4 linked regions of the Homo sapiens genome follow. The main gene of each other region encodes a partner of the protein of the gene in region 4 in a complex. Each region holds a gene or a part of one and is shown on either strand. Other genes may lie near its edges. The genes, in order: MTA3, MTA1, CDK2AP2 and HDAC1.

Evidence for each region.
Region 1: HDAC1 (region 4) and MTA3 share a complex: the UniProt entries of both Homo sapiens proteins name them as parts of the nucleosome remodeling and deacetylase (NuRD) repressor complex.
Region 2: the proteins of HDAC1 (region 4) and MTA1 are in contact, whole or in part, in a cryo-EM structure (PDB 7AO8), measured with the Homo sapiens proteins. Residues at the interface, in NP_004955.2 of Homo sapiens: Lys10, Tyr14, Gly20, Asn21, Tyr23, Gln26, Lys31, His33, Arg36, His39, Asn40, Leu43, Asn44, Tyr48, Arg49, Lys50, Met51, Glu52, Ile53, Tyr54, Arg55, Pro56, His57, Glu63, Lys66, Tyr67, Asp104, Val118, Ala119, Val122; in NP_004680.2 of Homo sapiens: Asn132, Glu135, Ala162, Asp163, Gly165, Glu166, Ile167, Arg168, Val169, Asn171, Arg172, Tyr173, Gln174, Ala175, Asp176, Ile177, Thr178, Asp179, Leu180, Leu181, Glu186, Asp187, Arg189, Gln191, Ser192, Arg193, Leu194, Glu195, Thr196, Gln197.
Region 3: HDAC1 (region 4) and CDK2AP2 share a complex: the UniProt entries of both Homo sapiens proteins name them as parts of the nucleosome remodeling and deacetylase (NuRD) repressor complex.

The regions. Positions count from the first base shown.
Region 1 is NC_000002.12:42,564,209-42,571,655, reverse strand, and holds the start of MTA3 (metastasis-associated protein MTA3), read right to left. Parts: upstream 3,025-7,447; 5' UTR 2,911-3,024; coding exon 2,883-2,910; intron 1,220-2,882; coding exon 1,152-1,219; intron 1-1,151. UniProt on the Homo sapiens protein: Acts as a component of the histone deacetylase NuRD complex which participates in the remodeling of chromatin.
Region 2 is NC_000014.9:105,464,825-105,471,258, reverse strand, and holds the end of MTA1 (metastasis-associated protein MTA1), read right to left. Parts: coding exon 6,396-6,434; intron 6,166-6,395; coding exon 6,076-6,165; intron 4,834-6,075; coding exon 4,681-4,833; intron 4,553-4,680; coding exon 4,517-4,552; intron 2,922-4,516; coding exon of another isoform or gene 2,910-2,921; intron 1,793-2,909; coding exon 1,761-1,792; intron 1,419-1,760; coding exon 1,267-1,418; intron 1,195-1,266; coding exon 1,044-1,194; 3' UTR 530-1,043; downstream 1-529. UniProt on the Homo sapiens protein: Transcriptional coregulator which can act as both a transcriptional corepressor and coactivator. Acts as a component of the histone deacetylase NuRD complex which participates in the remodeling of chromatin.
Region 3 is NC_000011.10:67,505,995-67,512,912, forward strand, and holds CDK2AP2 (cyclin-dependent kinase 2-associated protein 2), read right to left. Parts: upstream 2,169-6,918; 5' UTR 2,089-2,168; coding exon 2,007-2,088; exon of another isoform or gene 1,696-2,006; coding exon 1,598-1,695; intron 1,504-1,597; coding exon 1,371-1,503; intron 1,019-1,370; coding exon 951-1,018; 3' UTR 503-950; downstream 1-502. UniProt on the Homo sapiens protein: Acts as a component of the histone deacetylase NuRD complex which participates in the remodeling of chromatin.
Region 4 is NC_000001.11:32,330,070-32,334,144, forward strand, and holds the end of HDAC1 (histone deacetylase 1), read left to right. Parts: intron 1-508; coding exon 509-617; intron 618-698; coding exon 699-839; intron 840-1,404; coding exon 1,405-1,513; intron 1,514-1,606; coding exon 1,607-1,737; intron 1,738-2,020; coding exon 2,021-2,173; intron 2,174-2,631; coding exon 2,632-2,680; intron 2,681-2,947; coding exon 2,948-2,975; 3' UTR 2,976-3,557; downstream 3,558-4,075. UniProt on the Homo sapiens protein: Histone deacetylase that catalyzes the deacetylation of lysine residues on the N-terminal part of the core histones (H2A, H2B, H3 and H4).

The sequences.
Region 1 (7,447 bases), on a different chromosome or scaffold from region 4:
TTTCAATATTATGTTCCCTAGCTTCCTCCTTCTAAACCTGGAAGAGGAAAATATTAATTCACTAAAAAGGGAAAAATACACATTATGACTCTAAACATAAAAAGGGTCTGAGTTACATAAGTGAACTGCTCTTTCAGAGGCTCTAAGCAATTTGAAAATATCTGCACACTTTTAAATATTCAGTAACAAAAAAGCAAAAGAATATTCGGAATTCAGAATCGTGCATAACTCTCTAAAATCTCAACTTTTTTTTTTTTTTTTTTTTTTTTGAGACAGTGTTTTGCTCTGTCACCCAGGCTAGAGTGCAATGGCGTGATCTCAGCTCACTGCAACCTCCACCTGGATTCTCCTGCCTCAGCCTCCTGAGTAGCTGGGATTACAGGTGCATGCCACCATGCCTAGCTAATTTTTTTGTACTTTTTTAGTAGAAACAGGGTTTCACCATGTTGGCCAGGCTGGTCTTGAACTCCTGACCTCAAGTGATCCACCCCCTCCTTGGCCTCCCAAATTGCTGGGATTACAGGGGTGAGCCGCCATGCCCAGCCTAAAATCTCATCTTTCAAAGAGTCTGGGACTGAAAGTAAAATCATCTCTTATGCCCCTTTACCCAGCTTATTTTTATTTTTTTATTTTTATTTTTTTTTGAGACGGAGTTTATCTCATTGCCCAGGCTAGGGTGCAATTGCACAATCTTGGCTCACCGCAACCTCCGCCTCCCGGGTTCAAGCGATTCTCCTTCCTCAGCCTCTCGAGTAGCTGGGATTACAGGCATGTGCCACCATGCCCGACTATTTTTTTTGTATTTTTAGTACAGACGGGGTTTCTCCATGTTGGTCAGGCTGGTCTCGAACTCCCGACCTCAGGTGATCCGCCCGCCTCAGCCTCCCAGAGTGCTGAGATTACAGGCATGAGCCACCGCACCCAGCCATATTTTTACTTTTTATATTAATTAAAAAAAAATAAGAGATAGGGTCTCACTATGTTGCACAGGCTGGTCTCCAACTCCTGGGCTCAAGCTATCCACTCGCCAGGCCTCCCAATTTACTGGGATTGCAGGCATGAGCCCCCACACCAGGCCACCCTTTACCCAATTACCCATCAAGGGAAAATAAATATTTTTAATATTAAAATTAAGAACACTCAGTGTATACCTTGTTGAGTTCTTCTATCCTTCTTATTAGGTATGGGTTGCTGGAGGAATTCTCAAAGTAGACATAATCTGTAATTAAAGGAAGTACAGAACTTAATCTTTTTAACAGAAAGTTCAGATTTGTCAATCCAAGACTTTTTATGTTAGGCATTTCACGTTTGAAATTAAGCTCATAATTCATTCACTGGTAAAAGCAAACATAATAATGCAGCCTTAATATATCCTCTCACGTGCCTACTATTCACAGACCTTTATTTTCTTGGCATTTTCATTTCAATTAATGTTTTATCAGTTTCTCCTAGACTTCTGTCCCAATACGTCATTTCTTTAATAATAAACAAAAAAGACACCTCTTATCACTGTGTAGTCAGGGCACGCTAAACATGTGTCCTCTGTACTATAACTACTTCCACATCTTTTTCCTCCAATACAATTTGCCCTGCAGGCTGCTTCTCACATAAAACTATTGACCTAAGACACATTCAGAGCAGGGAGAAAGGCTTCACAGTCCAACCTACATTTCAATCACTACTTAAAAAAAAAAAAAAAAATCAGATGAGCAGAACAGGTTAAGAGGAAGAACGCTGACAAACTTTTCCACAGTTTTACCTGGGAAGATGAGGAAAAAAGGGGGCCGGGGGATCACTTCTAAGAGGCAAAGTGTTCTGGGGGTGATATCAGCATCTTTTTTACCCTTTTACCATATTTAATCCAGATCCATTTAATGTCTTGTGATTAAGAAATTGCTGCAGGCTTTCAACTAAAAGGATAAAATTTTTCAAGTGTGGCTTTTCCTCTCATCTAATAGGCTTGCTGGAAACTTCCCACTGTGTGTTTATCCGAAAGGCAGCTGCATTGTTATTGTCTATCTTAGTGGCTCTTTCGCCGCTCTCTTCTGCAAAGTGGCCTCATTTAGCCAGGCCATTCCCACCACCATCCATCAGAAGCTCGGCTAATGAGCAGAGAAGGAAGAGCCAGTCTCTCATACAAACACGCCACTTATCTGAATTATTATTTTACCAGGAAAGAGGGAGGAGGGCGTCGTGAGTAGGGAGAAAGTTTGTTTGACCTTATTTCTCTCTTCCGCAGAAGACTGGGAAGGAGGCAGGCAGCAGAGCAAACGTCCAGGCAGAGCTCAACTCCCCACCTCCGGCTGAGGTTCCCAGCTCCCACGAAGCCCCATTCGTGGGGGACTGGACCAGAAACGAAAAGGAGGGGGGCCGAGGAAGGGGAGGTGCAGGGCCCCGGCACGCAAACAGGCCCGTCCAGCTGGGCCCCTGGCTGGGCCCCCACCGCCCCCACCCCCACCCCCACCCCAGGCTCCCACTGAGTGGGGAAGAAGCAGGAGAGGGGATGTCCCCTCATCCTCTCCAGCGCCTAGAAGCCACGCAAGAAGGCCACCTTCTCAGGGGGCTCGACGGGCCCTACCCCGATGAGGGTTTCGTGGAGGGGGGTGTCTGGTAATTCGTACCCCCAAGTAGAGGCCTGGCCCTAAACACTGGGCGGGGTGCGAGGGTGAAGGTGGCCCCGGGCCCTCGCGAGCCCGCGTGGGGGGAGGGGAAGGGATGGGTGGGGGTGGGGAGTCCCGGCCCCTCTGCGGGCCCCGGCGCCCCAGCCCACTGCGACCTCAGCCCCGGCGCCCTTGGCTCCCGGCAGTTGGCGTGCACTCGCCCCGGCCCCCCGCTCCCGGAACCCGCTCCCACACGGGCCGGGTCGGGCCGAGCCTGCCTACCTCCGACCCGGTACATGTTGGCCGCCATGTCCGCCCGCCCGCCCGCGGAGCCCGAGCCGAGCCCCGCCCGCCGCCGCCGCCTCCTCCTCAGCCTCAGCCGCGACCGCCGCTGCCGCCGCCGCCGTCGCTGCTGCCTCGCCACGGGGGGGAAGGGAGGGAAGGGAGGGGACAGGGGGTGGGGGAAGTAAAGGGGATGGTACGCCGAGGGGTGGGGGCTGGTGCCCGCCCCCAGCGCCAGGCTAGCAAGGCCGAGTGGGCCGGGCCGGGGGAGGCCCGGGGAGGCTGGAGCGCTGCGGGGCCAGCGGGAATTGGGGGGGAGGGGGAGGGGAAAGGGAGTGGGAGTGGGAGGGAGGGTGGGGGGCCTTGCTGGAAGTGGAGGGCCCTGGGGTCAGGGTCCTGGCTGAGGCAGAGGCCTGCACTCAAATGCGGACCAGGGGCTGTTAGAGAATTAGAGTGGGGGCTGGGGCTTAGCCTCTCCCCAGCACCTCTTCCCCCACCCAGGGTACCCCGTCACCTGTCCACCCCAAGACAGGTCCTCCTTCCCTACCTCTGTCCCTGGGGAACCCCCCTGTGGCTGCCCTAGTAGGCAAGCGCCAGTCTCAATGCAAACTCTTGGATGCAAATAAGTGCAGGCAGCAGGGTGCCTTCCTCGCGGTGAGATTCAAGGGGCCGGCCTGGAGCCTGCAGGCTCTAGGGCCAGGAAGATTCCGGGTGCTTCCCGCCTCGCCAGAGACCCAGCTGGGGACAGAGGTAGAAAAACTCCCTTCCTAGGCCACCCTAACTGCGTCATCGTTTACCCCAAAACTGGGCTGAGCAGAACCAACTGTCCAACACCCAGATGGAGGCCCTGGCTCTAGACGGGCACTGTATATGCAGGGCCTGTTCTGCTGGGAAAAGGGACCTTTAGGAGTGAGGGGCTTCCTTTGTCCATGGGGGAACAGGGCCCTACAGTTCACAATCACCACCACCCCCAAACAGAGGAGATTGTATTCAATCAGTTTCATGTCGATGGACACTTAACTGGTTACGTGCCTAAAGCTTCTAAATGGTTATTGTCCCAGGCCAATTCTCTAAACAACCTCTGTTTTCACGGCCTTCCTACTCTCACAGATACAAAAAAAAAAAAACAACGTTGAATCTTAGCTGGCGATCCCCCAAATGAACACAAATAACTTTCTTTAGAGAAGCCAGTCCATTCCAAAGTACTCCCAGACATTGCTGCATAATAAACACGAAGAAGATTTCTTGGTGTGGTGGCTTGTTTGGAATGTGTGGTGATACACAGCTGTGTGCTGTCGACTCTGGGTTTAAGGTCTGTGCGGGGCTAAGAGGTGCCCCCAGAAAAGAAGGTTGTGTTTTGGTGGTTTGGTGATGACATTTGTGATGGTCACTTATCACAAAGTATTGAGATGAAAAAACTGTGCATAGCTGAGGCAAAATATAAAAATAAAAAATAAAGCACTATTGAATTACATTGACTCTATGACCTGTTTCCTCGTCTATAAAATGGGGACGTGAGTTCCCCCTTCACAGGTGTGGTAAGGATCAGTTGCGATGATATCTGAAAATGCTTTGTAAACCAGGGAACACAGAGCACCATGCAAATAACAGGTGTCTCTTGCTTTCTTTTTAACCCCAGAAAACCACAGATTCCCAAGGGTTCTCTGCTGTGTGTCAAATTCTGAGCCATGTGTCAAATTCTGACCCAAAGAAGAAAGCAAAAGTGTTCTGTTCCACACATTGCATAGCTGTCATTCAACATTTACCAGAGATCCCACCAAAAACATTCTGACAAAACTGACATCACTCCATTTCTGAGCTGACACATAAATAGGGTTGAATAATTCACCTGGAATCACACAGTAAACTGGCAGCAATTTTGGGATTATGAATCAGCCCTTTCCTCTGGCCTAGAATGTTCTGAACCACAGTGTTTCTCCAAGTACAAAAGCCACCTAGAAACCATAAAGTGCAAAGAAGTGGATCACAAGCTTTAGGATGTTTTCCCATTAATTTTTCATAAGCAATTTCTCCTCCTTCGAAATCTTTCCCTGTTTTTGTTAATTCATTGTGTGCCTGTCTCATTTCCCAAGCTTAGTGCTCTTGCCAGGTGTTTATGATGACTGTGCTAACCACAATAAATGGTGAAAGATGCCGAGAAAACTCCTCCCTATGTCCCCTTAGGAACAGCCTCATCCAGAAGCCCCCCATGAAAGGCCTCAAAGACTTGAAGGGGACTAGCAGGAGGTAATGATGGTGGCAGGCCTTAGAACCGTTTTTTGCTCTAGATTCTATATATTAGTCTCTTCCATGTCCAGCTCCTAGGCCAATGTCCTCTACATTTCTGAGCTGACACAGTAGATGCTCAGTATCTGAAGAATAAATACCAACAAATCGTGGACTCAAAGAATCAGAAGAGCTGAATACAAGGACTTTGTGAAACTTTTATATGTCCTAATTCCAGAGAGGTTCACACATAAAGGAGTTCAGCAAATGTTTGTAGATTGAAAGAAACCTTTCAACCAAAGACGGGTGGAAAGCCTGCACCTTTAAAAAAGCAAAGGCGCCTCTCCCTTCTTAGCTACATGGTTTAGACCACAAACTTGTCATCAACCAGCCCTAACTTCACTCCTAGTTTGGCAGTTTAACTATAAAGACCTTGAGCAAGTTACTTAACCCCTCTGAGCCTCAAGAGGGGTTACAAAATATGACTACTGGTTGATACCTACCTCAAAGGCTTATGGTAGAAAAAAAAATTTTTTTTGAGACGGAGTTTCGCTCTCGCTGCCCAGGCTGGAGTGCAATGGCACGATTCGGATTCGGCTCACTGCAAGCTCCACCTCCGAGGCTCAAGCAATTCTCCTGCCTCAGCCTCCCAAGCAGCTGGGACTACAGGTGCCCATCACCACGTCTGGCTAATTTTTGTATTTTTAGTAGAGACAGGGTTTCACCATGTTGGCCACACTGGTCTGGAACTCCTGACCTCAAGTGATCTGCCTGCCCAGCCTCCCAAAATGCTGGGATTACAGGCATGAGCCACCATGCCCAGCCTGGTAAAATTTAAATATAGAAGGTGTTTGGCACTTGTTGGGCGCTTCATATGCGTTAGGTCCCTTCTCTCTATTCCAGTTATTCTCATCACTAAGGAAGAAGTGTCTCTCAGGCCATGCCAGAAATCCCAGGGCAAATCCAGCCCTTCCATGGATGAAATTTCCTTGCACAGTTGTTGCAATTAAAGAACCACATACAAGGTAGTTCTTTACCATTTAGTTGAAGAGAAGTGGATGCAGCAAGAAAGCTATAGGTGGCTAGGCATGGTGGCTCACGCCTGTAATCCCAGCATTTTGGGAGGCCAAGGCAGGAGGATCATTTGAGCCTAGGCAACATGGCAAGACCCCACCTCTACCAAAAAAAAAAAAAAAAAGTTAGCCAGTTGGTGCGCACCTATGGTCCTGGCTACTCTGGAAGAGACTGAGGCAGGCAAATCGCTTGAGCCCAGGAGGTAGAGGCTGTGAGCCATGTTTATGCCCCTGCACTCTAGCCTGGGTAATAGAGCAAGACTCTGTCTCAAAATAAATAAACAAAAGAAAAAAAAGAAAGCTTTAGGTGAATAGGTAAAATGGAGAGTTGGTTTTTGTCTCAACGTAGGGATGGAGTTTTTATATGTGCGAAAAAATAAAAAGAGATTGGTGCCGGTTGGCTGAGCGCGGTGGCTCACACCTGTAATCCCAGCACTTTGGGAGGCCGAGGCCGGCGGATCATGAGGTCAGGAGTTCGAGACCAGCCTGGTCAATATGGTGAAAACCCATCTCTACTAAAAATACAAAAAATTAGCCGGGCATGGTGGCAAGCGCCTGTAGTCCCAGCTACTCAGGAGGCTGAGGCAGAAGAATCGCTTGAACCCAGGAGGCAGAGATTGCAGTGAGCCAAGATCACACCACTGTGTTCCAGTCTGGGCAACAGAACGAGACTTCATCTCAAAAAAAATAAATTAAAAGAGATTGGTGCTGGCCACAGTCTGGGAGTTCTGTCATACTGAACCCAGGACAGGAGCCTGGAGGTCTAAAATGTAATTAATCTGAAACCAGAGGCCAGGCTTTGGAAAAGGGACTTTATCTTGTTGGTTCGTGTTTTCCATGATTTATTTCTCTCTTCTTTTTCCTTTCATTAACTTCTTCTCTTATTTAGTAAAATTCTTTCAGAAAAGGCCAGTCTGTCTCATATTCTAAGGAGGGCCTGGGTTTTAAAGGCAGAGGAACATAACCCAAGAGAAGTGTAGGCATATGATGGCAAGAATCAAAGCAGAAGAGCCCCAAGGAGAAAGGAAACAGAATTGGGAGTTCTGTAGCTTCTCTAGTCATAGAGATGGTTCTTCCATAGATCTCCTGTGCAAAAAACATGAAATCCCTAAAGGTCTTGGTTTCGGGCAGTATGTGTTTTCGGATCCCATAGTTCCCTCATGCCCTCACAGGGGAGCTAGCTCAGCCATTTGGCTGCTTCCACAAGAAGGTTCCTTCTCTAGTAACATTACCTTTAGGTAGTAGAAAAGGGACTAAGTCATAATG
Region 2 (6,434 bases), on a different chromosome or scaffold from region 4:
TTCTCACTGTGGAGACTGCACACCTGCTTGGGGGCCAGAGCTCTGGGCAGAAACCCTCAGGCGGCTGGGGCCAGGCTCTACATGGCCAGGAGGTTGGGCCTCTGGCTGGAGCACTCCAAGGCCTCGCTGGCCCAGCTGCACTGGCTGCCCTGGTGGGAAGCCACAGGGTCTTCGGCAGGGCCAGCTCTGCCTGCCGGGAGGCAGTCCCCGGCCCACCGCTGCCGCAGACACAGACGCACAGACGGTTTCAGCACAGCTCTGCTGGGGAAGGGGGTTGGGCCCTGCAACCGCTTGCTGCCCCCTGGGGAGGGCAGAGGGCACCGCGCCAGGCCCCAGCAGGGGAAGGTCTGTGGGCAGGTGGGAGAGCAACAGAGCCCAGAGGCTGGGGTGGCTGTCCTGGCTGAGGTGGCCTCCAGGGGCCTCCAGCTCCACGGCAGAGCCACAGCCTAGGGCCGCCCGATGGGGGTGGGGGGCCCAGGGCCTGAGTCAGGGAGAGGGACTGGGAACAAAAGACACAGGGAAGGACCGGTTGGTTTTTTTCCTTTTTATAAGATTTTTTTTCTTTGTTTTTGTTTAATATGAAAATTACTTGAAAAGACAAGGGCCAACCCCGCCAGGCAGCTCGGCCGGCCGCGGCCGCACGATCCTAACATTCCAGGTGTAAGTTACAGAGCTCAAGTTCATCTACAAAAAAAGTAATAAAAATAAAATTTAAAATGGCACCTTCAACAGAACACAACAAAACCTTAGGGCCCGGCCTCCGGGCAAAAGGCCCCGCAGCACAGGGGCACGGGGTGGCCCCTCATCTCCGCTCCAGCCAAAAAGTAAACACAAAGCTAAAAACGACAACTCCTCGGCATTCTCGGAATAAGTTAGCCGCGCTTCTTCCTCTCCTCCCCCAGTGTCCGCCAAGGAGCGCGTTTCTCTGCAGGTGAGGGCGGGAGGTGGGGCACTACCAAACTGAGGGGCGGGCGGCGGGCTGGCTGGGAAGGGGCCGTGTGGGCGGGCGAGGGGCGGGGGGCGGCCGCAGGTGGGGGCGGCCCCTAGTCCTCGATGACGATGGGCTCGTCGTTGACGGGCGCAGGTGGCGGTGGCCGCGGCGGCAGGGCCTGGCTCTGGCGCAGGGCGATGGGCTTGTAGGGCCGGCGGGCAGCACGCTTGGTTTCCGAGGATGAGAGCAGCTTGCGGATCTTCCTGTGGGCAGAGGTGGTGGTGAGGGCCGGGACGCTGTGCGGAGCCCTCCCGCCTGCCCTGGGAAGGCCCCACCTGGTCTCCTCTGTGGCCATGTAGAACACGTCATCCGGGGCGTCGATCCAGTTCATCCGCCGCCGCTTGACTGGGGGCAGGGAGCCCCCCCGGATCAGGCGCACTTTGGTGGGGTAGGACTTCCCGTTGAGCAGGAGGTTCCGGCTTGGTCCCTGCAGAGGGGGTGCACTTCCTGGGCAGCCAGCCAAGGGCCAGCTCCACCTCAACCTGCAGGGCTCCCGCTGGGAGGTGCTGTGCCTGGCCAACCCCCCACCACCCCAGTGAGTTACACGGACCCCCAGCCTGGCCCAGGGCAGCCCTGAGGGCTGGTCGGCCGCACACCGCTGGGCCTGGCACAGGGGCCATGGCCCCCACATGCTGCAGCCCCTCTGGTCTTGCCAGGCCTCCTGGAAGCTTCCACGTGGCACCTGGCAGGGCTGGCCAGGCCTCTTCCCAACACCCCAGAGAGCTCATGGGTGAGCGCACCGTACCCCATCATGGGTTGTTCCTCTTACCATGTGCCTGGCCTGTCCGTGGTTTGCCAGACCTGATGAGAAATGGAGGAGAGAAATGAGGCCCCGAGAGAGCGCGTCCTGCACTCCCACCGCCCACCACGGCCTCAGCCACCTTGGGACAATGGGCCGGGGCCATCTGCCAACCAAGCCACAGCCCACACCCAGGATGGGCCTGGGGGACGTGGGGCCTCGCATCCCCGGGTCCTGGGCCGCCTGGTGGCCCCACAGCTCTCTGGCCAGCAAGAGACACATTGGCTTGGGCTCCAGGCAGGAGGCCAGGAGCCTTGGACCCGACAGTCACCTCCCTGCACAGGGGCCGGGGCTGTCCACCCACTTGCCTGCCGTGCCGAGACAAGCAAAGCCTCGCAAGGCTGTCAGTCCAGCAGCGGCACAAGCCCCTCTGCAGGGCAGCCACGCTGTGGCCGGCACTGCCCCACCAGGAGGCCGGGCTTTTTCCTAAGGCTCTGAGAGAGCCGCCAGCCCCGGCCAGAAACAGGTCACCACCCACTGCCCTGGCTGGGCCCCAGCCACCCTGGCATGTGCTTGGGGATGGGGTGCCAGAGGCCTCTGACTTCCCACAGTGCAGGGTGAGGAGCCCAAGGGGCACTGCGGGAGTTGGGCCAAGAAGCGGGGTCCATGCTCCTGGTCACCCCCAGCTGGGCCCAGGACCGCCGCTGCCCTCCCCCACTCACTGCCCTTCCCCACTGCCCTGTGTGTAGGTGTGGGCGTGTGCATGTGGGAGCTGGTCCCAGGATGGCTCGGCTCCCAGCAGGACCAGCTCAGAGAGGACAGGATGTCATACTCAACTCAGTCAGGTGCCAGGGCCCAGGGGCATCGGAGCAACCTGCCAGCTCCAGAAACGCTGCTTAGCTGAGGCCCATCCCTTAAGGAACAGAAGCAGCCTGTCCAGCCCCTCCCCACCTGCAGTTGCCTCCTAACTTGGGGCACTCCCCTGGGGGCCAACTGGGGCCCTGGAGCCCTGGGTCAGCCTTTCCCTGCCAGTTTGCTTAGCTCTGCCGGGCAGGGTCAGGTGGGGGCCCAGGTGCCTGATCTGCGGCGCTCCCAAGCAGGAACAGCCATACCTCAGGGCACCTGCCACAAGCCAAGGCCCAGCGCCCAGGGCTGGCCAGTAGCACAAAAACTACTTACCCAGGTAAGTGCCTACCAGAGCGGTGGACAGCAGAGGGAAGAAACACATGCTTTAGGTTAGTGAGCCACACGCAGCCATCTGCAGGCCCCGCAGGTGGGGACAGCGCAACAGGCTGCACGGGCAAATGGCCGGGTTAGAGCGCTGGGGCCCCGTGCTGTGGGCAGGCAGGGCCCTCACTCGAGCTCAGCTCATGCCTACCCAGGCTGGACAGAGACCCCACCTCGTGTGCGCCAGTGCCCCCGGGAGCCGTCTTCACCCAGCTGGCCCCTCTCCAGCGCCCAGGTCCTGGCCGCTACACGTCAGGACAGGCGCTTCCTCTGTGGCTGACCCCTCTGAGCCCAGGGCCCCGCCCAGCCAGGCGGCAAGGGGTGATGCTCCCTCACAAGCACTGCATGGCTGGGACTCACGTGTGAGGTGTGGAAAATTCAGTGGGAACAAATAAGCTTTTATGTAACTTGCTGGTTAACCGCTTTTTACAAAACAAAACAAAAAGCTCGAAGATGCCTGCTGACAAGGACTCCCTCCTGTTTCTACCAGCTCTTATGGGGCTGTTCCTGGGACGCCCTGCCATTAGGAACAGACAAGTAAAGCCAGCCCAGAGTGGGCTGGCCCTGGGCCCAGGACTAGGCAATGGGGGCAGCCCCAATACCAGATGGCTGGGAGGGTGCCCCAGGAAAGGAGGGCTGGGGCTGGGGCCGAGACACAGACACCGCCAAGGGATGTCGGGAGGAAGCTGCAAGGACAGGCCAGGGGTGCGTGTCCAGACAGGTGGAGATGGGGGGCCCGGCACCCGATCTCAGGCCCACCCTGCGCTGCAGCCGGCGTGCTGACCCCACAGGACGTGCCTGCCAGGACACCCAGCAGCCTCGAGAGAATGCCCCAAGGGGACAGGGTTGGCTGGGCTGGGCAGCCACTACCCATATCCACCTCCAGGTCGCCAAACCGGCCCTGCTGCCCTGGCCAGCACCGTCAGTGAAAGCCGCCTGGCGAAGGGGCTCCAGGCACATCCACACTGGCAGGCCCAGCACTTGCACACCCGGGCCCCACACACCTGGCCTCCTCATGCTAGGCTTGGTCCTATCTGCTCTTCCCCAAGGGGCCTGGGGTCCCGCAGCCCCTGCTCCAAGCAACCGGCACAGAGCACCTGAGCCAGTCCTCCGACAGAAGGCACCCATGTGTACAAGCTCAGTTGCCCACGGCCCACACAGACACCCCCGACCACCCTCCCCACTGTCCCGCCTGGCAGGCGCACGGAAGGATTGCAGGCACAGCACGGGCGGCCCCACGAGCTGAGGCTGGCAGCATGCGGGCAGTCACAGCGCGATGGCAGACAGCGCAGGCAGGGGCGCCAGGGCCACACGTGCCAGGACAGTCCACTGACAGGAGGCGGGGCCAGGGGGCCGAGGGCCAGATGCCTGGGCTCGGGGGGTCTTCACCAAGGGACCAGTGATGTCGGGAGGAATGTGGGGAACTGGGCTGTGGCCTGGCTCACGTGGACTGCCCCAAGCATGGGCCCTGGGCCGCCCGCCGCGGGGACACAGAGCAGCACAGCACAGGCATCACGGGCGGGGCCGGCGCAGCGCCCGCCCGCGGCTCCAGGCCTTACCCCTACTGGGCATCAAGAGGCGCTTCTTCATGTTGCCTGGCAGCGCCGGGGTGGGAGAGAGGGAGAGAAGACAGCGTCAGCACGCACGGCGGGTGCCCGGGCGGGGACGGGCCGGACTCACCGGGCGGGGAGGGCCACACTCACCGGGCGGGGGGGCCACTCACCGTCCACCCCGTTGTGCTGCTCGTAGCTGCGCTTGCCCAGGATGGTGGGGGAGCCGTTGTTGATGACGGGGGCCACCTTGGCGGGCGTCAGGCTGCTGAGCACGCTGGACACGCTTTTCACGGGGTCAGGCTTGGGGGGGCGGGGGTGGGTCTCTGCCGGGAATGACACAGGCAGAACGAGTTGCCTCTGCCCAGCAGGGGAGGGGCAGGCAGGCCCAGGCTCCAGCCCTCATGGTTCCGGGATACCCCCAGGAACTAAGCCCCATGCGGCCCCCACCCGAGGCCCCATCCTGACTGGGCTGGAAGTGGGGAGGTCACCACAGAACCAGAAGCCCAGAAGCCCTCGGCAAGGCGTGTGCCCGGGCCAGTCCCGCACCCCAGGGCTTCCAGAGAGCAGGGAGACCACCTGGCGGGGGCCAGGCCCCTCAGCCCCGGGACAACAGGATCCATACACAGGCCCGTGAGCACAGCACGCCTATTAAACAGCCCCCACGTCCAGGCCCCCGGAGCTGCTGGTGGAGGGCTGGCTGCTCGTCAGACAGCGAACCAACCATCCAGCCAGCCTGGCCAGGGACACAGCTGCTGAGGACCAGCCCTGACACCAGCCACCTCTTCCCACAGGACAGGGGCCACAACCCCAAACAGGGAGCAATGCCAAAGCCACTTGAATCTCAGAGCACACTTGGCTCATGACTCTGGAATGTCCTTCTCAGGACAGTCACCCTGTGTCGGGAGGGCAGATGCACAAGCCCACTCGAGCCCAGCAAATGGAGGAGGCCCCCCACCGCCACCACAAATGTCTGGCCCAGCCACCAAGCTGCTTCCAGCTGGGCCAGGGTAGCCGGCTGAGGTTCTCGGGTGTCCTCAGATGCTCAAAGGCAAAGGAACCCCCTGCCGCCTGAGGCTGCTCCTCCCCCTGCCGAGGGCGTGCAGAGGCCTGAGTGCTGCCCCTGTGGAGTGGGCGTGGCTCAGGAAGTATACTCCCTGCAGGCAGCAGGTACGACGCTGCCTTAATGGTATTACAGGCAGGGGTGTGCACCACCTAAACCCCAGACCCTCAGGCCCCAGGGACGATCAGAACACAGGGAACAGGGTAGCGAGACTGGCAGGGAAGCCCCCGGGTGTGCCTTGAGGAGGCTGGCCCCGCAGAAGACAGGGCGGCCGCTACTCCGCACTGGGCCCCATCACGACCCCAGGAGCAGGGAGCAGCCTGGGTCCCAGTGGGTCTGCCTGAGCCTGGCACGGTGCAGAGTACCCCAAAAGGACAGTTCCAGGCCCTGGGGGGCTGTCCAGGAGCTCCCAGCTAGAGAAGGCTGGGAGCACCAGTGCATGAGCTTGGGTGAGAAGCTGCCTGCAGGCAGCATTGGGAGCCCCCCAGCACGCCTGGCTGCTCACCAAGATACCGAAGCACGGCTTCCAGCGGCTTGCGTACCGCCTGCTTCAGCACCAGCGGGCTCTGGGAGGCTTCGGGCAGCCGCGCCGTGCCTGCGGGGTACCACACGGTGTGAGGGGTGGGGCACCCCCAGGGGAGCACGGGACCCTGCCTGCGCCTTGACCTGGGAGCCCTCACTGGGCTCGGCCATGTCAGCACCGAGGAGGACGTGGGGCTCCCTGAGATCAGAACTCCCAGTGGGGCTACAGGCTGGGCCCCAAGGTTGCTGCTCTCTCCCCACCACCCGCAGGAACAGAGTAAGCGGGGCGTTGGGGTGACTCACACTCGGCCTTGATGGCCGCGCTGTTGATGGGCAGGTAGG
Region 3 (6,918 bases), on a different chromosome or scaffold from region 4:
CCAGCCTGCTACAAGGTGCTGGGGCAGTGACGGCAGCACCCCGCCAGCCCCTCCCCTTGACACTGAGGCCAAGTGCTGGAAGCAGCAGTGCCCTTTCTCTCTGAGAAGTCAGAGACCTTCAGGGCTGATTCAGAGGCTGGGGTGTTGTCAGGGCATTAGGGCGTGTGAGGGAGTGGCTTACGTGAACTGGCATTTCCATGCTGCCAGGCATCACCGCCAATCCAGAGGAAGCGCCCTCCAGGCCCAGGCTGCCCACAGCGCCAAGGGCTGTGGAAGCAGCCAGGCCCTGTGCTGCCCCCTGGTGGCACCACAGGAAGGCCCAGGGCTCTCAGCGCCACGGCTGGGGCGGAGAGGGCCCAGGTCCCACCAAAGGCTGATGGCCTACAGAGGCAAGTCAAACCTCATTTAATCACACCCTCCCCATCCATAGTCTCCTCTTCCCCTGTCTCTGCCTGGCCCACCCAGGCTTAGCTGAAGAACCAGACCCAGAAAGGCTCAGAGCTGAGAGCACAACTCCAAATCATCTTTTATTAATATAAAAAGGGCATATTTAGCAAAAGACACACAGATAAAAGAGTCACTATGGCTCAGGACACAAGGCAGGGAGGTGCCAGGCCTGTGCCCCTGCTGGGGGAGAAGGAGGCTCGGGACAAAGTGGGAGAAGTGCTGGGAAGGGCTGAGCGGTAGGGGCCACAAAAGTTCCGGTGGGCAACACTGTCGGCAGGTCATGGGTGGGACTCATGGGGACCTCGCTGCTAACTCTTGTTGTGGGGGGGTGTCCTTAGTGCTGCCACCTGGAGGGCCACTCCTTGGTTCCTGGAGGGGACCCACCAAGGGACACAGGACAGGAAGCCCAGGATGGTTAGTGCAACTCGGGATGAAGGCCAGGGAGAAGCGGGTGCTCTGCAGTGGCCGGATAGGTCCAGACGCTGAGGCCGAGGCGCTTCCTGTTACGTGCGGGCGTTCCGCTCTGTCTCTGCCAGGCACTCTCTGACTAGGGCCCGGGCATGGATGATACCTGGGGGTGGGGTGGGGTCTCAGCAACCCTCCACAGCCCCACCCACTGCCCTCCAGAGGAGGACCCCTGCCTCCCCACTCCCTTTCCACTTTCGGCAAAAGAAATTCAAATCTAATGACGGCTAGATGAAATTAGAGGTTTGGTTAATCCTCAAGGTTGCCCTGTTGAAATACAAATTCCCATGCTCTTCCCTGGAAATGGACTCAATTTCAATTCGATTCAAAACACCTCTCTGGTAGTAATACTGGACATCCTCTAGGCTTGGCTCAGGTGGCCTCCAGATGTCCTTCCTTCCCTCATGAAGGATAGTCCAGTGTCGGTTTCCTGAGCAGGGCGGCCTGGCCTCACTTACCTCTCTTCAGGCGCTCCATGGCGCTCTTGCTGCCAGCATAGGTAGGCCGGATCTCTTTGCCCATCTCCTCTATGACTGACAGCAGGTCCGTGTAGGTGCTCTGGGAGCCCTGGGCGCCGGGTGGCTTCATCGCCTATGTCAAAAGAGAACAGGGCAGTGAGCTCAGGCACCTGGCGGGGAGGGGGACTCCAGTCCGCATCCATAAGCAAGGCTTTGGCCCCACTCACCTGCACGTAGCCCATGGAAGGCGGTCCAAAGTCGTTAAACAGCGGTCTGAAAGGAGCGCCGGCTCCTGGCACTGAGCCCGACGGCGACGGGACGCTTCCTGCAGCAACAGGCGCGAGTAAGAGGTCAGCGCGGGGCAGGGACGCCGCCTCCCAGCTTTTCCAAGCCCAGGACCGGGTTCGCCCGATTCCCTCCAAAGGATGCTTCATTCCATGCTGATCAACTTCAGGGACAAATCCCTCCCACTGCGCTCCACCTACAAGCCCTTACGTGACCACGCCCACTTCACAGGCCAGCAAACTGAGGCTCAGCGAGGGTAGGCGGCAGGCCCAGTATTGCAGAACTCAGGCCGTCTTCTCTTCGAGACCTCGACCGCCCGGCAGGCGAGCAGGGGTGGAGCTGGATCCTCACCTGTAGGGACCGGGGTGCCCGGCCCAGGGGTGCTGGAGCCAGGGGTGCTGCTGGGAGCAGGGGCGATGGGTTTGTAGGACATCCCCAACTCCTGGGCGCGGCGGACGCCAGCCGGCCGCTCCTCGGGGGTTGGCTGCGGGGCCGCTCAGCCGCGCTCTGATTGGCAAGCGGGCTGCACGCCCCTGGTAAATAGAGGTCTGGCCGGAAGGGCGAGCGGGCACGAATGCTCCCTCACTCCCGATTGGTGCGCGAAGATGTCACTCGAGCCTCCTTATTGGCCGAGACCTGCCCCAGCAGGTCGCAACCGCCGCCGATTGGCCTCCGCCTTCCGGACCTCGCACCTGTCTGCTCCGGATTGGGCGGTGGCCACCGCCCTCCGCAATTGGCGAGTTCGCGGCCCGGGCCGGCGCGCTCTCAATCCGATTAGTCCCCAGGCCCTAGAGGCGGGGCCTTGGGAACCGGGACCCGGGGCTGGGCTGCCGGTTCGCGCCGAGGGGTCTTCCCGGGCGCGGGCGCTACCCTCGCGCCTCACTCGCGCTGCTTCAGACGTCTGCTCCGCTCTGCCCAGTTTCGGCCCAGCAGGGGTTGCTGTCGCAGCTGCCGTCGCCGCTGCCACCGGTGCCTTGCGCGCTTCTCCGCTCTGGGGGCCGAAGGACGCAGGGCTTTGACGTCCCGAGCCCTGCGCCCCACCCCGTGCGCTTTTACGTCACCTTTCACCGGTTCAACACCCGCTCCCCGATCTGCGCATGCGCCCGCCCGAGGCCTGCGTTTGTTCCCATGGCAACAGGCCCCTCATGGATGCCGCCACGTACCGTTCTTCCTGCGGCTTGGCTCGTCCTCAGGTCTAAGGGCGACCTCAAAGACCCCTTTACCCGCACCCCCAAGGCCCCGCGCTGCTGCCTAAGTTAGTGACAATGGCCGTAGGGCAAACCTTCGGGATTACTTGCGTGCCGGGCCCCGGACCAAACTGGTCAAGAGCACCGACTGGAGCCAACCGTCTGGGTTCAAATCTCAGCACCACCCCCACTAGCGATTTCCCCCAGGCAAGTTTCTCACCTCAGTATGCCTCAGTTTCCCCATCCGTAAAATGGGGAAAATGACGATCTCATTGGGTTGTGTGGATTAAATGAATAGTCATAAAGTGCTTGTTGTTTCATTCTCCGCCTTCCTGTCCCACAGGGCCCCCATACCTTTCCACTCCACCACTCAGACCCCTCCCCTCAAGTCTCACTCCCCACAGAGTTAGACCTCAGACCCTCCTCCACTCCCTAACCCTTTCTCCCAGGCTCCTTCTCCAAACTCAAACTTCTCTGGCCTTGTGTATCTTCATGCTCCCAGCTTTGTAGATCTTCATCTCTAGGACAGTCATTCATTCATTCATTCATTCATTCATCCAACAAGCATGTTCTGGCTGAGCGCGGTGGCTCACGCCTGTAATCCCAGCACTTTGGGAGGCCGAGGCGGGCGGATCACGAGGTCAGGAGTTCGAGACTAGCCTGGCCAACATGGTGAAACCCCCATCTCTACTAAAAATACAAAAATTAGCGGTGTGGTGGCGGGCGCCTGTAATCCCAGCTACTTGGGAGGCTGAGGCAGGAGAATCGTTTGAACAGAGGTTGCAGTGAGCCGAGATCGTGCCATTGCACTCCAGCCTGAGCGACAGGGCAAGACTCGGTCTCAAACCCCCCCCCCAAAAAAAACACACAAAAACCATGTTCTGACTCCCTCCTCCGTCCCATGCCTTGTGCTGAACGCTGAGGTTACAGAAATGAACAGGCCATGGCCTCTGTACTCAAGGAGGCCTTATACTCTGAGACAGGGAAGCAACGTCTTCTTTACATTGCAGTAAGTCAATGGCCACAAGGGATAACGGGACAGGATGCATTGGAACTTAGAGGAAGGGCCTGCCGGGTGGCATCACAGAAATCTCTACAGACTAGGTGGCATTTGAGTAGGTGGGGGTGGAAGCGGAGACCGAGGGGACACTCCAGGTAGAGGGACTGTCATGTGCAAAATCTTGGGAAATGGGAGAGCACAACATGTGTTTGAGAACCAGCCTTTTTTTTTTTTCCTTTTTTTTTTCTGCTGGAGAGTTCACTGGGAAGTGGAGGTGGAGCCGTGGAAATAACCACAGGGTCAGGAAGGGGACCTTAGGTGACGTGGATGTAAGGAAGCTGAGTTGACCACGGAGTCCAGTGCTTCCCTAACTCCAGCCATTAGGAAAACTCCATCAGTTTTGCCATCTATTTAACATTTCCTTGTAATTAATTCACTTTTACAAAATCTTAAATAGAAAGGAAAAGGCATAATGTCCATTTAATCATGTGCTCAGTATTTATAGTTTTCTAATACATATTCAGACTCAACTACTGTTAAAAAGAAAAGGTGTTGATCAGGTCACCCAAGGTCTTCTGCTCCTACTGGTGGCACTGAGGGTGCGCTTCAGAGAAATCTACTGTGGATAGTAGGTGAAGAGGAGCCACTGAGGGTTATACCTCCTTTGGAAACCACCAAGCCCCAACTCCTTCTGTTACAGGAAAGGGGTCTGGATCCATATCCCACCAGAGGGTTCTTGGATCTTGCACAAGAAATAATTTAGGGTGAGTCCACAGAGTAAAGTGAAAGCAAGTTTATTAAGAAAGTAAAGGAATAAAAGAATGGCTACGGACAGAGCAGCCCCAAGGGCTACTGGTTGCTCATTTTTCTGGTTATTTCTTGATGATATGCTAATCAAGGGGTGGATTATTCATGCCTCCCCTTTTTAGACCATATAGGGTAACTGCCTGACATTGCCATGGCATCAGTTTACAGATGGGAGTGTAGCAGTGAGGACGACCAGAGGTCACTCTCATCACCATCTTGGTTTTGGTGGGTTTTAGCTGGCCTCTTTACTGTAACCTGTTTTATCAGCACGGTATTTATGACCTGTGTCTTGTGCTGACCTTCGATCTCATCCTGTGACTTAGAATGCCTTAACCATCTGGGAATGCAGCCCAGTAGGTCTCAGCCTCATTTTACCCAGCTCCTATTCAAGATGGAGTTGCTCTGGTTCAAACACCTCTGACACTTCCACACCTTAGACCTTCCTACTTTCTCCACTGCCCATTCTATTAGTTACTGCAGCCTTGACCTCCTGGGCTCAAACAATCCTCTTGCCTCAGCCTCTCAAAGTGCTGGGATTACAGGCAATAGCCACTGGCCTAATTCCACAAACAAAATAAAATACCATAGACTGGGTGGCTTAAACAACTAAAATTTATTTTCTCATGGTTCTGGAGGCTGCAAGTTTGAGATCAGGATGCTAGCACGGTTGGTTTCTGGTGAGGGCTCCCTTCCTGGCTTGTAAATAGCCACCTTCTGGCCACGTCTTCATATGTGCTCCTTGGTGCAGAGAGAAAGAACAAGCTTTCTGGTGTCTCTTCTTATAAGTACGTTAATCCTGGAAGCTGGGCAGGGAGGTGCAAGGCTGTAATCTCAGCTACTTGGGAGCTCACATGGAAGACTTGATTGAGCCCAGAAGTTTGAGTCCAGCCTGGGCAACACAGTGAGACCCGACATCTAAAAAACAAAAGAAGGGCCAGGCTCGGTGGCTCACTCCTGTAATCCCAGCACACTGGGAAGCTGAGGCGGGAGTATTGCTTCAGCCCAGGAGTTCAAGACCAGCCTGGGCAACATAGTGAGACCCTGTCTCTACAAAAAGTAGCCTGGCATGGTGGCATGTGCCTTTAGTCCCAGCTACTTGGGAGGCTGAGGTGGGAGGATTGCTTGAGCCCAGGAGGTTGAGGCTGCAGTGAGCCGTGATCATGCAACTGCACTCCAGCCTGGGCAACAGAGCAAGACCCTGTCTTAAAAAAATAAAAAAGTAAAAAAACAAAAAAGGACACTAGTCCTATCAAATCAGAGCCCTACCCTTATGGCCTCATTTAACCTTAATTACTTCCTTAGCGGTCCATCTCCAAACACAGCCACACTGGGAGTTAGGCTTCAGCATATGAATTTTGGAGAGACACAAACATTTAGTCCATAACACCCATGTTTGGGGGAAGGGGTTTGCTTGGGAGGTGCCTGAGGGGTTGAACCTTGAATTCATTCATTTATATTTATTTATTTATTTTTGAGACAGGGTCTTACCCTGTCACCCAGGCTTGAGCGCAGTGGTGCAAACATGGCTCACTGCAGTCTTGACCTCCTGGGCTCAAGCAATCCTCCTACCTCAGCCTCCCAAAGTGCTGGGATTACAGGCAGGAGCCACTGGCTTGGCCCTACAGCAGGTTCAGATGTCCCTCCTCCTTGGAGCAGTGGGCTATGGCAGGAGGGGCACAGAGTTCCGTGAGGGAGGTGGGTGGTGACAACTGTGGCCTATCTTAGAGAGAGGACTCTGTCTACCTCGGGGGAAGATAGCACAGCTTCCTTGGTACAACGCTTTAGGGGCTCCCCTCTGGTCTCAGCCCTCAGACCCACAGCTCATCCCCTGGATTTTGGAGCCTTTAACCATTGCTAAATTCAGCCCATAGATGGGCTCTCGTTGGCTTGCCCAGTGAATTAAAACTTCATCTTAGTGAGCAGCATTGTATTTCTGTACAATCCTTTCAACTTTGCGCGGTGGCTCACGCATGTAATCCTAGCACTTTGGGAGGCTGAGGCGGGCAGATCACGAGATCAGGAGATCGAGACCATCCTGGCTAACATGGTGAAACCCTGTCTCTACTAAAAATACAAAAATATTAGCCAGGCATGGTGACACGTGCCCATAGTCCCAGCTACTTGGGAGGCTGAGGCAGGAGAATCTCTTGAATCTGGGAGGCGGAGCTTGCAGTGAGCTGAGATTGTGCCATTGCACTCCAGCCTGGGTGACACAGTGAGACTCTGTCTCAAAAAAAAAAAAAATGAATGGATGAACAAGATGATACTA
Region 4 (4,075 bases):
GTAGTCATTCAGCAAACACTGACTGCCCACTATGTGCCTAGTATTTAATAAGGGCTACAGAAGTGGGAGTTGTGGTCTCGGTCTCAGTAACGTTAGACTCTGCTTGTGAGAATAAGATAAACTAAAAGTGCTTGCTCATAATGTAAGGCTTCAAGTCTGTAAGACCGAATGAGTAGAGTAGATGCAGCTAAAGGTCAGGAAGGCTTCCTGGAGGAAGTGGCACTAGAGCTTGGGCAACAGAAGAGACTTAGGGAGTTGAGAGGGAGGCCATTCTAGGTTCAGTGTTACTAGAGTGTTAGAAGGGTCTTAGAGAACTTTTTAAATTGGAAAATTGAAATCCCAAGTGGGCAAGCAAGGGCTCCAGCCTAGCACTCCCTTTTCTCTCCCACATAGCATGAGGGAGAGTGGAAAGGTAGGAGTGGGTGGGAAAGTGTTGCACCCAGCCTTTCCACTCCAAACCTCGTATTGCTTTCTTGAGGTTGGTGGTGACCAGGATGTATCATTTTAGGTCATGTCCAAAGTAATGGAGATGTTCCAGCCTAGTGCGGTGGTCTTACAGTGTGGCTCAGACTCCCTATCTGGGGATCGGTTAGGTTGCTTCAATCTAACTATCAAAGGTGAGACCAGGTAGCACAAGGATGGGTGGGCGGGGTCCTGCTTGGTGCTCCTGTAACTCAGCACCCCTTCTCCCACCAAAGGACACGCCAAGTGTGTGGAATTTGTCAAGAGCTTTAACCTGCCTATGCTGATGCTGGGAGGCGGTGGTTACACCATTCGTAACGTTGCCCGGTGCTGGACATATGAGACAGCTGTGGCCCTGGATACGGAGATCCCTAATGGTAATAGCTGCAGGGCCAGGTTCGGCTGGGCTGGGTGGGAGCTGGAGCTCATCTGTCCTTAAGTTTATAACCCCTTCCCCGTTGGTCATATGACCGCTCCTCTTCTGATACTAGTCACTGAGTCTCCTGCCTGTCCTCTTGTGATCAGCAGACCATAACCATCACTTTTTCCCTAGTCCTTTTTAGCTCTCTCCCCTCTCCCTCCTGCTTTTGGTCTGGACAAAGTTCTCATTGGTAATTTACAGCTTTGGAATTTCTACTCTGTAGAGTAACTGGAGTAGCGAGTGAAGGGAGCGCTCATAATGAGCATGGCCTCAAGTGTCCTAAACCAGGGACATGGGCCTTCTCCTAGCGACATATACACCACTGGTACAGACATAGGAGAGTGATGTTAAAAAGATGGAAATCCCATAGGTACCCGTGTCTCACAGTGTCTTGGAGGCATTCTCCTCTGTTTGGATAAATAGGCCCAGAGAAACCTACAAATGCTTTAGGGTGCTTACGTGCAAATGGTTAGGGTGCGGTGGCCAGGTCTCTTGACGGTCTTCTCTCCTGCCCCAATCAGAGCTTCCATACAATGACTACTTTGAATACTTTGGACCAGATTTCAAGCTCCACATCAGTCCTTCCAATATGACTAACCAGAACACGAATGAGTACCTGGAGAAGATCAAGTGAGTATATCCTCCAGCCACCCCTTGGTTGAACATTCCTGACTTTGGTTTGTCCCTGACCAGAGCCCTGCTACTCTCTCCCATTGGCCACAGACAGCGACTGTTTGAGAACCTTAGAATGCTGCCGCACGCACCTGGGGTCCAAATGCAGGCGATTCCTGAGGACGCCATCCCTGAGGAGAGTGGCGATGAGGACGAAGACGACCCTGACAAGCGCATCTCGAGTGAGACCCAGACCTAGAGCCCTATGCCTTCCATTCAATAGGCAGCTCACACTTCCACCACCATTCCTGGCTGCACACTCCCTCCAAGCTCCCCACCTGTAGAGAAATCTGTTTTCGAGTTCCAGTGCCTGTAGGAACAGGTTAGGGAGCCCGAGTTCCTCCCTCTTCTGGTTCCCTTTCCCTTGGTGTCTCTTGGAGGACACGCAGGGAAGCACTGGGCATAGATGCTGAGCTAAATCAGCACCCGCCTGCCCTCTCACCCATGCTTCCCACTCCCTCCCAGTCTGCTCCTCTGACAAACGAATTGCCTGTGAGGAAGAGTTCTCCGATTCTGAAGAGGAGGGAGAGGGGGGCCGCAAGAACTCTTCCAACTTCAAAAAAGCCAAGAGAGTCAAAACAGAGGATGAAAAAGAGAAAGACCCAGAGGAGAAGAAAGGTGGGTTTGGGTTCAGCTGGGACTTGGGTCTCGAGCCTGAGAGGATGAATCTATGTAGGGCAGTGGGAGGAGGGAGTGACTCAGGCCCTGCCAGCTCCTGTGGGGCTCTTCCTCAGTTCCTTGAGCCTTTCAGTGGCTCCCAGAAGTGGCAGAGCCCACAAAACAATGAACCTCTACTGCCTGAGCACGGCTCTCACATACCACCCCAGCCCTTTTCCCAGCACTGCACCCCAGTTTCCCAGGGGGCTGCCTCCGCCCACCAGGTTCTGGCTGTAGCAGGCTGGGAAACCAGTCCAACCTGTTCTCAACAGGGCTCACTGGGAGGACCAGGGATGGGCTTTTCTCTCTTTATGTCCAGTGAGCTGTAGTGTTGGGGAAGGGGTCTCAGGGTAAATGAAGACCTCATGGGTCTTCCCAGAGGTGCTGCCCTTGGCCATCCCTGTACTCTTGTGTTCTAGAAGTCACCGAAGAGGAGAAAACCAAGGAGGAGAAGCCAGAAGCCAAAGGGTGAGGAAGGAGCTGCCTGTGGCCATCTCCCTGGCATTGGAGCACCAGCCCCTTTGTCCCACCACTCTGAGGAAAGGCACAGGGACAGCTGGTCCAGCTTACAAAGGCCTCTTTCAGGGACCAGTCTGTCCAGCTCTGCAGTTCTAGGCAGAGCTAGGAGCCCCAGCCCCCAGTAGTCACCTAGGATCCTGTGGAAGTCACTGTCTGCACTTTTGCCCTGAGGCTCTGGGCTGGGTCATCTCATGCCAGTCTCTGCTCTCTCCACAGGGTCAAGGAGGAGGTCAAGTTGGCCTGAATGGACCTCTCCAGCTCTGGCTTCCTGCTGAGTCCCTCACGTTTCTTCCCCAACCCCTCAGATTTTATATTTTCTATTTCTCTGTGTATTTATATAAAAATTTATTAAATATAAATATCCCCAGGGACAGAAACCAAGGCCCCGAGCTCAGGGCAGCTGTGCTGGGTGAGCTCTTCCAGGAGCCACCTTGCCACCCATTCTTCCCGTTCTTAACTTTGAACCATAAAGGGTGCCAGGTCTGGGTGAAAGGGATACTTTTATGCAACCATAAGACAAACTCCTGAAATGCCAAGTGCCTGCTTAGTAGCTTTGGAAAGGTGCCCTTATTGAACATTCTAGAAGGGGTGGCTGGGTCTTCAAGGATCTCCTGTTTTTTTCAGGCTCCTAAAGTAACATCAGCCATTTTTAGATTGGTTCTGTTTTCGTACCTTCCCACTGGCCTCAAGTGAGCCAAGAAACACTGCCTGCCCTCTGTCTGTCTTCTCCTAATTCTGCAGGTGGAGGTTGCTAGTCTAGTTTCCTTTTTGAGATACTATTTTCATTTTTGTGAGCCTCTTTGTAATAAAATGGTACATTTCTATATCCTCCTGAGCTTGTTTCCTATGTGTCCCTGGGTTGGTTTCAACTCTACTTCCCTGCCGTTCTGGTGTCCATGAGTATTGGGGCAACCCCCTGAACAAGAAAACCCCATAAACTTACCTGCCTGCCTTAACTCCTCCCTTGAGGTTTGAGGTAAACTACTTTCCACCAATCTTCTCACCCTACCCCCAGAAGACCACTCATTAAAGCACCACTAAAGGGACGACATTTATTCCTTTTCCAAATGTTACAGTAAAACCAGGTGGAAGAGAATGGTTTTAGCAGTTAGAAAAAAAAAAAAAGTACAAATCTGGGGTTTGGCCATTAAAAGTTATTTACAACAGTGGGAGAAAAAAAGACAAGAAGTTGTTTCACATTACAGACCTCCCCCCACCCCAAAGCCTAATACTTGCTTACCAAGTCAAAAAAGAGACACAGTTGATTCACAGGCTGGAGGTTTGAACTTGAGTAAGACATTTATAAAAACCTAGACGGGGCAGTGTCCTCCCCAGCCCAGGTGC